2 separate regions of the Homo sapiens genome follow, and region 1 is linked to region 2. The links come from fine-mapping of genetic effects on gene expression. A gene starts in region 2. The other region holds a variant in brackets. All regions are shown on one strand. Distances are from middle to middle.

Region 1 (5,376 bases), 61 kb after region 2:
CAAAGTGATGGGTACAATTAAATGAAAGTCAGTGACTGTTTCACAAATCTGTAAGACTCATTTGTAATCTGTGCCATTCTATACATTAGACTTAGGTCAGCGGTCCCCAACCTTTTTGGCCCCAGGGACCAGTTTCATGGAAGACAGTTTTTCCACAGACCTGGGGAGCAGGTGTGGCGATGGTGATGGTTGGTTTTGGGGTGAAACTGTTTCACCTTAGATAATCAGGCATTAGTTAGATTCTCATGAGAAGCATGCAACCTAGATCCTTCGCCTGTGCAGTTCATAATAGGGTTCATGCTCCTATGAGAATCTAATGCCACTGCTGATCTGACAGGAGACGGAGCTCAGGTGGTATTGCTCGCTAGCTCACCACTCACCTCCTGCTGTGAGGCCCGGTTCCTAACAGGCCAGGGACTGGTACTGGTCCATAGCCCGGGGATGGGGGACCCTTGACCTAGATTCTTAATATTGTCCTTAAGGTTAAAGATTTCCAAAAATTCTTATTTGATTTATCTGTTGGCTATGTTTAAGAGGATTTTCTAAGATAACTGTCATAGTGGTGAAATTTAATAGATCTGAATGAGTAGAGGCTAAATTAATTATTTTAAAATGTATATATTGGTGAAATAGATGGAGTAGTTTATTATACATGATTCCAGCTTGAAAATGGCTTCAGTGGGGCAGCAGTTAAAGTTTTCTAAGTTTGAAATTGCGTAGATTTGAGTATATTCAGAATGTGTGGGCTGTATGTAGGAAAACAGAGTCTCAGCCAGAGTACTGGAACTGCTTCTGTGAATGGTTTTCATTTTAGTCCGCTTAATTCCTTAAGTAGCCAGTTGTCCTTTGGTTTTCATTCTTCACTGCCATAGCAGTGACATCAGATGCAGCTGGAGCTGAAAGTAGAAGGGTTATGTTAATTAATTCTAGTGAAACAAAAACTGCCTCAAATAATTAATGGAATAATAGTCTCATTAAAAGACCTTAGAGCTTTTTTGTGCTCTTTTTTTTTTTCTCCAAGAGATTAGAGAAGGAGAATGGCACAGATTGTTCACTTGAGACCTTTTTAAGCTATTGATCCATCTTAAGTCCTCATCTGATGCCTCTGATTTCAACGTGAATCATTCAGGCCATGTAGTGATTTTCTCTTATTTCCTCTTGAGGCTGCTCTCTCTTTGCCTTTGGTGACAGTTTTCAAGAGAGCAGTGCCTGATCTTTGGCTTGTCAGAATCTAAAAATGGCCCCTATTTTATTGGCTTATTTACAGCTGTCATATTTTAGTTTAAATACAGTTGACCTAGCAAGCAAACATTTGTGTGTTACAAGTATGGGACAAATCCCAGGTGGGGTTGTCTGCCAGGTTATTGGAGGGAGAGAAGAGGCTTATATGTTCCCATCACTGTTTTCTTCATTAATCATGCTGTCTGTCAGCTGATCATGCTGTCATGGAGTTTTTTTGTTTTTGTTTTTCTTCCAAATAGTTAAAGAAAGATGCATTATTAAACAGAGATTAGCCAGAGTTGGGAAAAACAGGTAGAGAGACAAGTAGGAAGATCCTTTCTTATATGTGATCATCTTGGTTTTCCAACCCAATATGAGGATGCTGCCTTTGAGTAAACTAAAAAAGAGTTTAATCTGGCCAGGTGCTAGGTCTAATGCCTGTAATCCCAACACTTTGGGAGGCTGAAGCAAGTGGATTGCTTGAGCCCAGGAGTTCAATCCAAGCCAGGGCAACATGGTGAGACTCCGTCTCTACAAAAAATTAAAATATTAGCTGGGTGTGGTGGCACATGCCCATAGTCCCAGTTACTCAGGAGGCTGAGGTAGGAAGATCACTTGAGCCCGAGAGGTTGAGGCTGCAGTGAGCCACGATCAAACCATTGCACTCCAGCCTGGGTGATAGAGCAAGACTCTGTCTCAAAAAAAAAAAAATTACAAAAAAAGTTGAATCCACTTCCAATTTTAATAACACATGAGAAGAGAATAGGAGAAAATAACGTATAACATACGGCTTACGTTTTTTTTGGTAGATAAGAAGGTACGGATTTCATTGTATTGTTGAAAATATGCAAGGATCTTATGTATGTTCAGGAGCTAAATTTCTGGGAACATAATAATAAAGAGGTAAAGAAAAAGACAGTAAAAGAAAAAGGGAAGCATAAAAACCTAAAATAAAAAGCTAAGTACAGTAGTTTGAGACTAGAGATTTGGGTATAATTAACCACATGTGTGTTACCAGCTATGTGTGGAGTAAACAGGGTTAATGTTTTGGCAGGGGGTGGGGGTGAGGC[G/A]GGGAATAATAGCCCAATAATTCAGGGAACCAATGGTATGCCTACAAGTAATCTTGGCCAGTGTGCTATGGAGGTAGCAAACTCACAGTAGATGAAACAAAGGAGGGATTTAGAACACATAGGACTAATATAGATGTATATTTATGTTTCTACTTTTGTTGTTTGTACATTGTGTGTTGTGATGCCTTTTTTGGTGGTTTGTTTTGTCAGGTTAGTTCTACTTTTTTTTTTTTTCCTTATAAAACCCTAACAATGTTTGTTGTAATTTTATCAAAGTTTTCATAAAACTAGCTACAAAATCCACTTGGATTATCTGATTCTAAGTTTTTGAAAGATATGATTGAAACAGCTTTGCCATTTTAGGACTTGTGTGAACCAGAAATACTATGAAAAGAAAATAGAGAAAGACAATTTACAATTTATAAACAAGAGTTAAACTTTACAAATTTGAATGATTAAATAACAAATACATAAAATGAATAAGAAACACCAAGGAGAACAAATAAAATAACAAACAGTAACGTAATATGGTTAAGGGCATCATCTCTAGAGTTAGGTTGAGCTTCTCCTTGTGTGACCATAAGCAAGTTAGTGAATGTACTTTCCTGATAGGGCAGTTGAGAGATTAGATACATACATATATATGTAAAGCCCAGTACTTGGCATATCATAATAGAGTCCCTTAATGTTAACTCTTAGGTAGCATTATTGGCTTGTCTATTTTAAATAATTTATAAAAATCTATTTTCTTATTTTAAAAAAGTGGTAGCCCTAGATAGATCTCTAGTTATTACACTTTTTTTTTTTTTTTTTGGGGACAGGGTCTCATTCTGTTGCTCAGGCTAGAGTGTAGTGGTGGGATCATGGCTCACTGCAGCCTCGACCTCTCAGGCTCAAGTGATCCTCCCACTTCGGCTGGGACTACAGGTGCATGCCACTATGCCCTGCTGATTTTTGTATTTTTTTGTAGAGTTGGGGTTTTGCCATGTTGCTCAGGCTGGTCTGCTCCTAGGCTAAAGTGATCCTCCTGCCTTGGCCTCCCAAAGTGCTGGGATTACAGGTGTGAGTCCCTGTACCAGGCCCTTATCACACTCTTAAAGCTTCTGGAACGTTTTAGGACATCAGCTATGTACACTATTAAAATTTTCCCTTCATTCTAGTTAGGATTTGGCTATGGATACTCTTTCGATTGTAATCTGTCTACAACTCAGCAATGTCAGCACCATCTGACAAAGCTGTAACTTTCATTCCAGTCCCTTTTTAATGTTTCCATCATCAACATTCTTAACCAGTTTTCTGCTGGAAAGGAGAACTGTATTCTAAACGAGGGCTTTTAAAGGTACTGCACCCAGTTGTAATTAACTAGCATAATTAGCATTTTATGTGTAATATAGACATGTGTCATAAACTGTTGCTTGAATCCTAAAGTCAGTTCCAAACCCATTTCTCCTTCTGTTATAGAGGTTCGAAGACAAATATGCCTTTTTCTAACTTCCCTTGCAGTTAGGGCCAGCTGTGTGATTTAGTTCTGGCTAATGTGATATAACCAGAAATCTTCTGGAAGACCTCTACAGGGGGAAAAAAAAGTAGCTTCTCTCATAAAAGGAATAGAAACATTTGTTTGTATATATACTCTCTTTCTTCCATCCTTAAGTATGTAATGTGATATATGGAGTCTTTGGCAGCCAAATTGTAATCATAAGGTGACAAGCCTCAGAATGAAAAGTTAACAAGCTAAGAAGGTAGAGCAGAAAGACAGAATCTGAATTCTTTTTTTTATTTTGAGACAGCGTTTCATTCTATAGCCCAGGCTGGAGTGCAGTGGCACAATCTCGGCTCACTGCCACCTCCCCCTCTCGGGTTCAAGTGATTGTCACACCTCAGCCACCTGTGTATCTGGGATTACAGGTGCAGGCAACCACGCCGGCTAATTTTGTATTTTTAGTAGAGTCAGGGTTTCACCATGTTGGCCAGGCTGGTGTTGAACTCCTGACCTCAAGAGATCCGCCCTCCTTGTCCTCCCAAATTGCTGGATTACAAGCATGAGCCACTGCATCTGGCCAAGGGACTGAATTTTTTTTTTTTTTTTTTGAGAAAGGGTCTCACTCTGTTGCCCAGGCTGGAGTACAATGGCGCGATCTCGGCTAACTGTAACCTCCACTTCCCAGGTTCAAGTGATTCCCACGCCTCAGCCACCTGAGTAGCTGGGATTACAGGTGTGTGCCACCACGCCCAGCTAATTTTCATTTTATTATTATTATTTTTTTGAGACAGAGTCTCGCTCTGTCACCCAGGCTGGAGTGCAGCGGCGCAGTCTTGGCTTACTGCAAGCTCAGCCTCCCGGGTTCACGTCATTCTCCTGCCTCAGCCTCCCAAGTAGGTGGGACTACAGGTGCCTGCCACCATGCCCGGCTAATTTTTTGTATTTTTAGTAGAGACGGGGTTTCACTGCGTTAGCCAAGATGGTCTCGATCTCCTGACCTCGTGATCTGCCTGCCTCGGCCTCCTAAAGTGCTGGGATTACAGGCATGAGCCACAGCGCCCGGCCTAATTTTCATATTTTTTTAGTAGAGAGAGGGTTTTGCCATATTGGCCAGGCTGGTCTCGAACTCCTGACCTCAAGATATCTGCCCTCCTCAGCCTCCCAAAGTGATGGGATTACAGGTATGAGCCACTGCGCCCAGCCAAGAGTCTGAAAAATTTTTTTTTTAATCTTTCAAGCTTTTATTTAAATGCCATGATCCAGGATGGATTTTAGATCTTGTTGAAAGCAGCCACATCCATGGGCTGCACATAGTCCTCAAACGCAGTGATCTGCTCCTCCAGCATATCTGTTCCAACTTTATCATCCTCAACTACACACTGTATTTGAAGTTTCTTAATTCTGTATCCCACTGGAACTAGTTTAGATGAGTCCCAGACTAAGACGTCTGCTTGAATGCTTCTGACGCCCTCTAATTTCGCCATATCTGTCTCATCATCCCAAGATTTCACATCTAATAAGATGGAAGACTTGGAAACAAGTGCAGGTTTTTTGGCTTTCTTTGATTCATATTGTGCAAGACGTTCTTCCCTTAGCCTCTTT
Region 2 (5,376 bases):
AGTCAGAGCATACACATTTATTGGTTAAGTTCACTGTCTTATGTGGGAGTGGTTTGTGGTACTCCCCCAAAATTACAATAGTAATGTCAAAGATAACTGATTACAGATCACTATAATAGATATAATAATAATGAAAACGTTTGAAATATTGCAAGAATTACCCAAATGTTACACACGATCACAAAGTAAGCACATGGTGTTGGAGAAATGGCGCCTATAGAGGCTGGATGCAGGATTGCCACAAACCTTCAATTTGTGAAAAATGCAGTATCTAGAAGTACAATAAAATGAAGCCCCAAAAAACAAGGTATCCCTAGATGGCAGTTTAGACTATGAATGTCCACCGGGCGCAGTGGCTCAAGTCTGTAATCCTAGCACTTTGGGAGGCCGAGGCAGGCCGAGCACTTGAGGCCAGGAGTTTGAGACCAGCCTGGCCAACATAGCAACACCCCGTCTTTACAAATTATTATTATTATTATTTGAAACAGTTTTGCTCTTGTTGCCCAGGCTGGAGTGCAGTGATATGATCTCAGCTCACTACAACCTCCATCTCCTAGGTTTGAGCAATTCTCCTGCCTCAGCCTCCCAAGTAGCTGGGATTACAGGTGCCCACCACCATGCCCAGCTGATTTTTGTATTTTTAGTAGAGATGGTTTTACCACGTTGGCCAGGCTGGTCTCGAACTCCTGACCTCAAGTGATCCACCCGCCTCGGCCTCCCAAAGTGCTGGGATTACAGGTGTGAGCCACCGTGCCAGGCCTACAATTATTAAAAATACAAAAATTAGCCGGGCATGGTGGCATGTGCCTGTGGTCCCAGCTACTTGGGAAGCTGAGGCAGGAGAATCACTTGAACCTAGAAGGCAGATTGCAGTGAGCTGAGATGGTGCCACTGCACCCCAGCCTGGGTGGCAGAGTGACACTTTGTTTCAAAAAAGAAAAAAAACTATGAAGGTGGAAGTTATTTCCTGGAGGCTGTGTAAACATAGAAGAGAAGGAGATCCAAGGACAGAACTGTTAGAATCCTCCCATTAAGAGGCAGGTTAAGATTCAACAGGGAGGTTAAGTAGGAGGAAATCCATGAGACAATAGTATCCTGGAGATCAAGAGAAGGAAGTTTTGACAAACAGGGTGCTGGGGACCAGTGTGCAGTTTTACACATTAAGGTTCATAATGATGCAGAGTGGTGTTAGTTGGGAAAGAATGGCTTTCCAGACAGGTCCTCATTGTGGAGCATTGCCCATGGTGAATTCTCCATTTGACCAAAGTCTGCCCCCAGAAATTCAAACTTCCCCTTCTGCGAGTGTCACTATCAGAAACAGATTCTTTTTATCCAAGGTCACATAGCCAATTTTAAAAAAAAGGCCAGATGTGGTGGCTCGCTCCTATAATCCCAGCACTTTGGGAGGCCGAGGCGGGTGGATCACTTGAGGCCGGGAGTTCGAGACCAGCCTGGACAACACGGCAAAACCCTGTCTCTACTAAAAATACAAAAAATTATCAGGGTGTGGTGGTGGGCAACTGTAATCCCAGCTACTTGGGAGGCAGAGGCAGGAGAATTGCTTGAACCCAGGAAGTGGAGGTTGCAGTGAGCCGAGATTGTGCCATTGCACTCCAGCCTGGGTGACAGAGTTGAGACTCTGTCTCAAAAAGAAAAAGAAAAAAAAGTTTTTTTTCTTTTTGTAGAGACAGAGATTTGCCATGTTGGCCAGGCTGGTCTTGAACTCCTGAGCTCGAGCGATTTGCCCGCCTTGGCCTCCCAAAGTGCTGGGATTACGAGTGAGCCACTGTGCCCAGCCACAGCCAATTTTCTTGAGGCTGAGTTTCATCATTAAGTGTATGTCTATCAGATTTTAACTCAAGTTCACAAATACATTGATATAGGACATATACTAGAACGTCAGTCAATTTATTAATAAAAATACAACTGTTAAATGCTTCAGTGGCCTAACTACTGCACTCTTCTTTCTCTCTGCAGTTCTGCTTAAGGGAAAGGCAAATTTTCAGTATGTTACTTTGTGAGTATAGAAGGAGAACAAATATGTCGTGGATCTTACAGTTTCTCAGCTAGCCCAGCGTGAGACATTCTTAAGGGATATCTTTGTCAAACAGTTGGCCTGTTGAACCCTTTTATTTTCAATACTTCCTTGGCTGACAAATGCCTTCCTTCGTTTCTCCAAAAGGAGTGCAATATTAACTCTTTTTGTTTTTCTAGTTGCAATTCCAGTGCAATTCTTCCTGTCTGAGATTCTACATCCTGGTTGAGTTTCGATGGTTTCCAAATTCCTTATCCAGGCATTTAGGGTCTTTCAATTGTTCCCCTGCCCCCAGAAATGCATTCATTTTCTGTGGCTTTTTACTAGTTTAACTTTTAGAGGGCAATCTTATTTCCAAGTTTCTGAGGGACACTTTGTTGGAACCAACAAACATTGCGAGTAACTATTCAGATATCAAGTAGAATGAGGATTCAGTAAGAAGCCGCAGGACTTGGCAAATAAAAAGGTCATTGGGGGAGCTCAATGCTAGCAGTTTCGGTAAGCTTGTGGGAGTGGACCCCCTGGGAGTGGACAAATGAATCTGAATTCCTTCGTTAGATATCTAGGAAGTGCTGGACCCTCAGAGTAAAATATAAGTAATTACAGACGAGATCCCTGCCCTGGTGCGGCTTATCTGAGAAGGAAAGGTGACCTAAAGTCACGACAATTGTGTAATGATACAGTTCATGTTGTTGAGGAACTGTACAGGGCTGTGACAGCCTTTAAGAGGTGGCTCTGGCCTAGTGTAGAGGTTTAGGAAGGAAAGGTTCTGAGGCAGAGACGTAGGACTGGAGATGTGAAGGCGTGGCAGAGTGGAGCAAGACTTTTGGCGTGCCCAAAAGACAGCCTGTGTGGCTACAGAGCGGAGAGCGAGGAGAACAGAACTAGGCGAGGATGGGTAAGTGGAAAGAGTAAAATAAAGCTCCTAGAACGAGGGGACCAGAGTGGACAGGAAAGGGCGGGGAGGGGCGGTTCCACTTAGAAACTACAATTCCCAGGAAGCACTCGGCAGCCACAAACGGATGTGAGGTGAGGCAGGAGCGGCGACCTTTGAAGGAAAAAAGGAAGTGTTTGGACGACAGCGAGCGGGAGAAGCGGGGTCAAGTAGGTAGGGGTGCGGTGCGGGAGGGGCAGGCGGGCTCCGGCGTGCGAGGGCCTTGGCCAGCGGAGCGTTTCGCGGCTCCGTGTCGTCATAAGGCGGCGGCCATTTTCGCGGGCGGAGGCGGCCCGGCGGGCCCTGGGAGAGCTGGGACGGGCGGCGGCCGGGTGGCCTCGGCCACCCGCTAATTGCATCTTTTCCCGGCGTCTCGTCTGCAGAGGGAGCACTATGTCTGCGGAAGTCCCCGAGGCAGCCTCCGCGGAGGAGCAGAAGGTGAGCGCGCGGGGCGTGAGCCCTGGGCCCTGCCCAAGGCCGGGTCTGGCGGGCGGCCTGCTCCCGCCAGGCGGAGGGCCGCGCCCGAGATGCGGGGCCGAGGCGCATGAGGCCGAGGCTCCTGCGCCCCACCTTTGGCTTCCCGCCGTCGCTGGCTGGTGCGCCGACGAATTGGGAGTTCCAACGTGCCCCGCGTTTACTCCGAATCGTGCCTTTTGTAACACCTCCGTGGGTCGCGGTGTTCCTCAGTCACTTATATTTACGCGAGAGCCCAGGACGCAGGCTTTGGGCGTAGAGCCTAAGTTTTTCTGTAAGCCTCAATTTGGTTAGGAAGTTTTATTTTTTCCTTTGAAGAACTCTCCAACTACTTGTATTGTGAGCGTGCGGTTCACTCCAAAAGCAGTGCCTCGTGTGCGGGCCGCGATGTGGGCCAGGATTGGCATTTCAGGGCCAACCCTTGTAACCATGGTCAGTGAGTAAAGTCCGGCCTTCAGTGTCTTCACCTGTAAAGGCCGAATACTGGTGCTTGCCTCCCACGGCGGGGTGAGGCCTAGAGGAGGTGAGTCAGGTGTAGTGTGCAGCGCAGTCTGTGCTCAAAAAGGTTTCAGTCGATGGGACTCAAATATGGTACTTGACTAAAAATCGAAAGGGTGGAATTTTAAAATTTTACTCACGAAATTAATCAGGGTTTTATTGGAAACAGGAATATTTTGTAAACGCCCTTGTGTCTTCCTGATGTAGGGGAATAGGCCGGGAGTGTCACTGTGGTTCAAATTATGAATATCAAGCCTTTGTATTTATCTAGGCTGGTGTTTGTCTCTCCCACTGTAATTATTTCCACCGCCCTGCCCTCCTAGGCAGGTGTGACTGGCCGAGAAGTGAGAAAGGGCCGAGGTATCTTGTCTCCTAAATTGTTTATCAACAATTTTTCTTACAAATCAGGTTGTGTTGCCGTTAAATACGATTTTGGTCTACTGCTTGACCTTCGTGCGGGTTTCTGCTTAATGTTGCACTTATGTCCTAATTAAGTTGGGAATTGGATTAGTGTTCTAAGCCCATTCCATATGTTCTTAAAACCGTGTTAACTTTTCTTAAGTTGGGTGCTTCTGTTAGGATGTTAAAGTAATTGAAAAACAAGAAAACATATAGCATAGGTAAAAGTCCAAGTTACCACATTATTTGAGAATATCCCGTGAAAATAGATATATTTACGCATTACCAAAAAAATGGATTTTGGGGGCAAAAATACAAATATTAAAGTTTGCAATCTTAACAGTATTATTAAGTATCACCTGCTTATTGTAAAATGCGTATTGTGTTCATTATTGCTTGAAATTTAGGAGCCCCCAAAAATAACAAGTCCCTGTCTGTGGTGGTTTGCCTTAAACACTTACATCAAACTTAGCATTAACTTCTGGTGCACAGTAGTGTGCTATGTAATTTTCTTTGATAAGTTCTGTTAGTATGTTGCCAAAGTATGCAGTATTGACTTCTAGAGTGTAAATACTTTTACTTGGAAAAGCCTAATGTATCTTTTAACAATATTAAGGATAGCTTGAACGTTTTCTCTTATTGATTGTCTACATTAAACATTTAAGGTGCTTTGGTTTTAGCTGCTGTCATTAAAATCAACCAAAGTGTGTTAGGAATATAATGTTCCTTCTTAAATTGAGGATTGGCTGTAAATGCTAAGTGCCTGTGGCGTGGATGGTGTCCCTAACCATGAAGAAAATGTGCACAGTCACTTCTGTGTTCCTGTGGGCCAAATCACCTGTTTCTTCTATTTGGAAGATCAGTTCGATGACCTAAAAAATTAAGTTATTGTCTGTGTACCCAATTGACCTTCCACTTAAAGCCAAAGTATTCAGCTAAAAATACCTTTATAGTTTACTGGTAGGTTGCCTGTTGCCGCTAAAGAATTAAGGTAGATAGCTGGGCCTTGCATGGAGTAAAAGCTAAGTCACTTTCT

Which allele goes with the higher level. Alleles are on the strand shown, and positions count from the first base shown. SD is a standard deviation of normalised expression in the study named.
For the expression in lymphoblastoid cells of the gene that starts at base 3,225 in region 2, allele A in region 1 goes with a higher level than allele G (moderate effect, 0.47 SD a copy in GEUVADIS).

What was found. PIP is the estimated chance that this variant, and not a neighbour inherited with it, causes the effect.
Region 1: its variant is the best candidate, but not a certain one, in a credible set for the expression of ARPP19 in lymphoblastoid cells (GEUVADIS, PIP 0.81).

Annotation. Positions count from the first base shown.
Region 1 is chr15:52,505,533-52,510,908 of GRCh38, reverse strand. The region is part of intron 1 of MYO5A (myosin VA); the gene reads left to right. It also overlaps the pseudogene EEF1B2P1. Among named protein-coding and RNA genes, the nearest start is that of MYO5A, 21 kb to the left of the region's middle. The variant G/A (reference allele first, on the strand shown) is at 2,292.
Region 2 is chr15:52,566,879-52,572,254 of GRCh38, reverse strand. ARPP19 (cAMP regulated phosphoprotein 19) reads left to right here and starts at 3,225. Exons shown (of 3, transcript NM_006628.6): 1 at 3,225-3,407. The coding sequence starts at 3,363. RefSeq lists enhancers at 2,696-2,825, 2,879-3,625, 3,626-4,374 and silencers at 3,296-3,355, 3,426-3,525.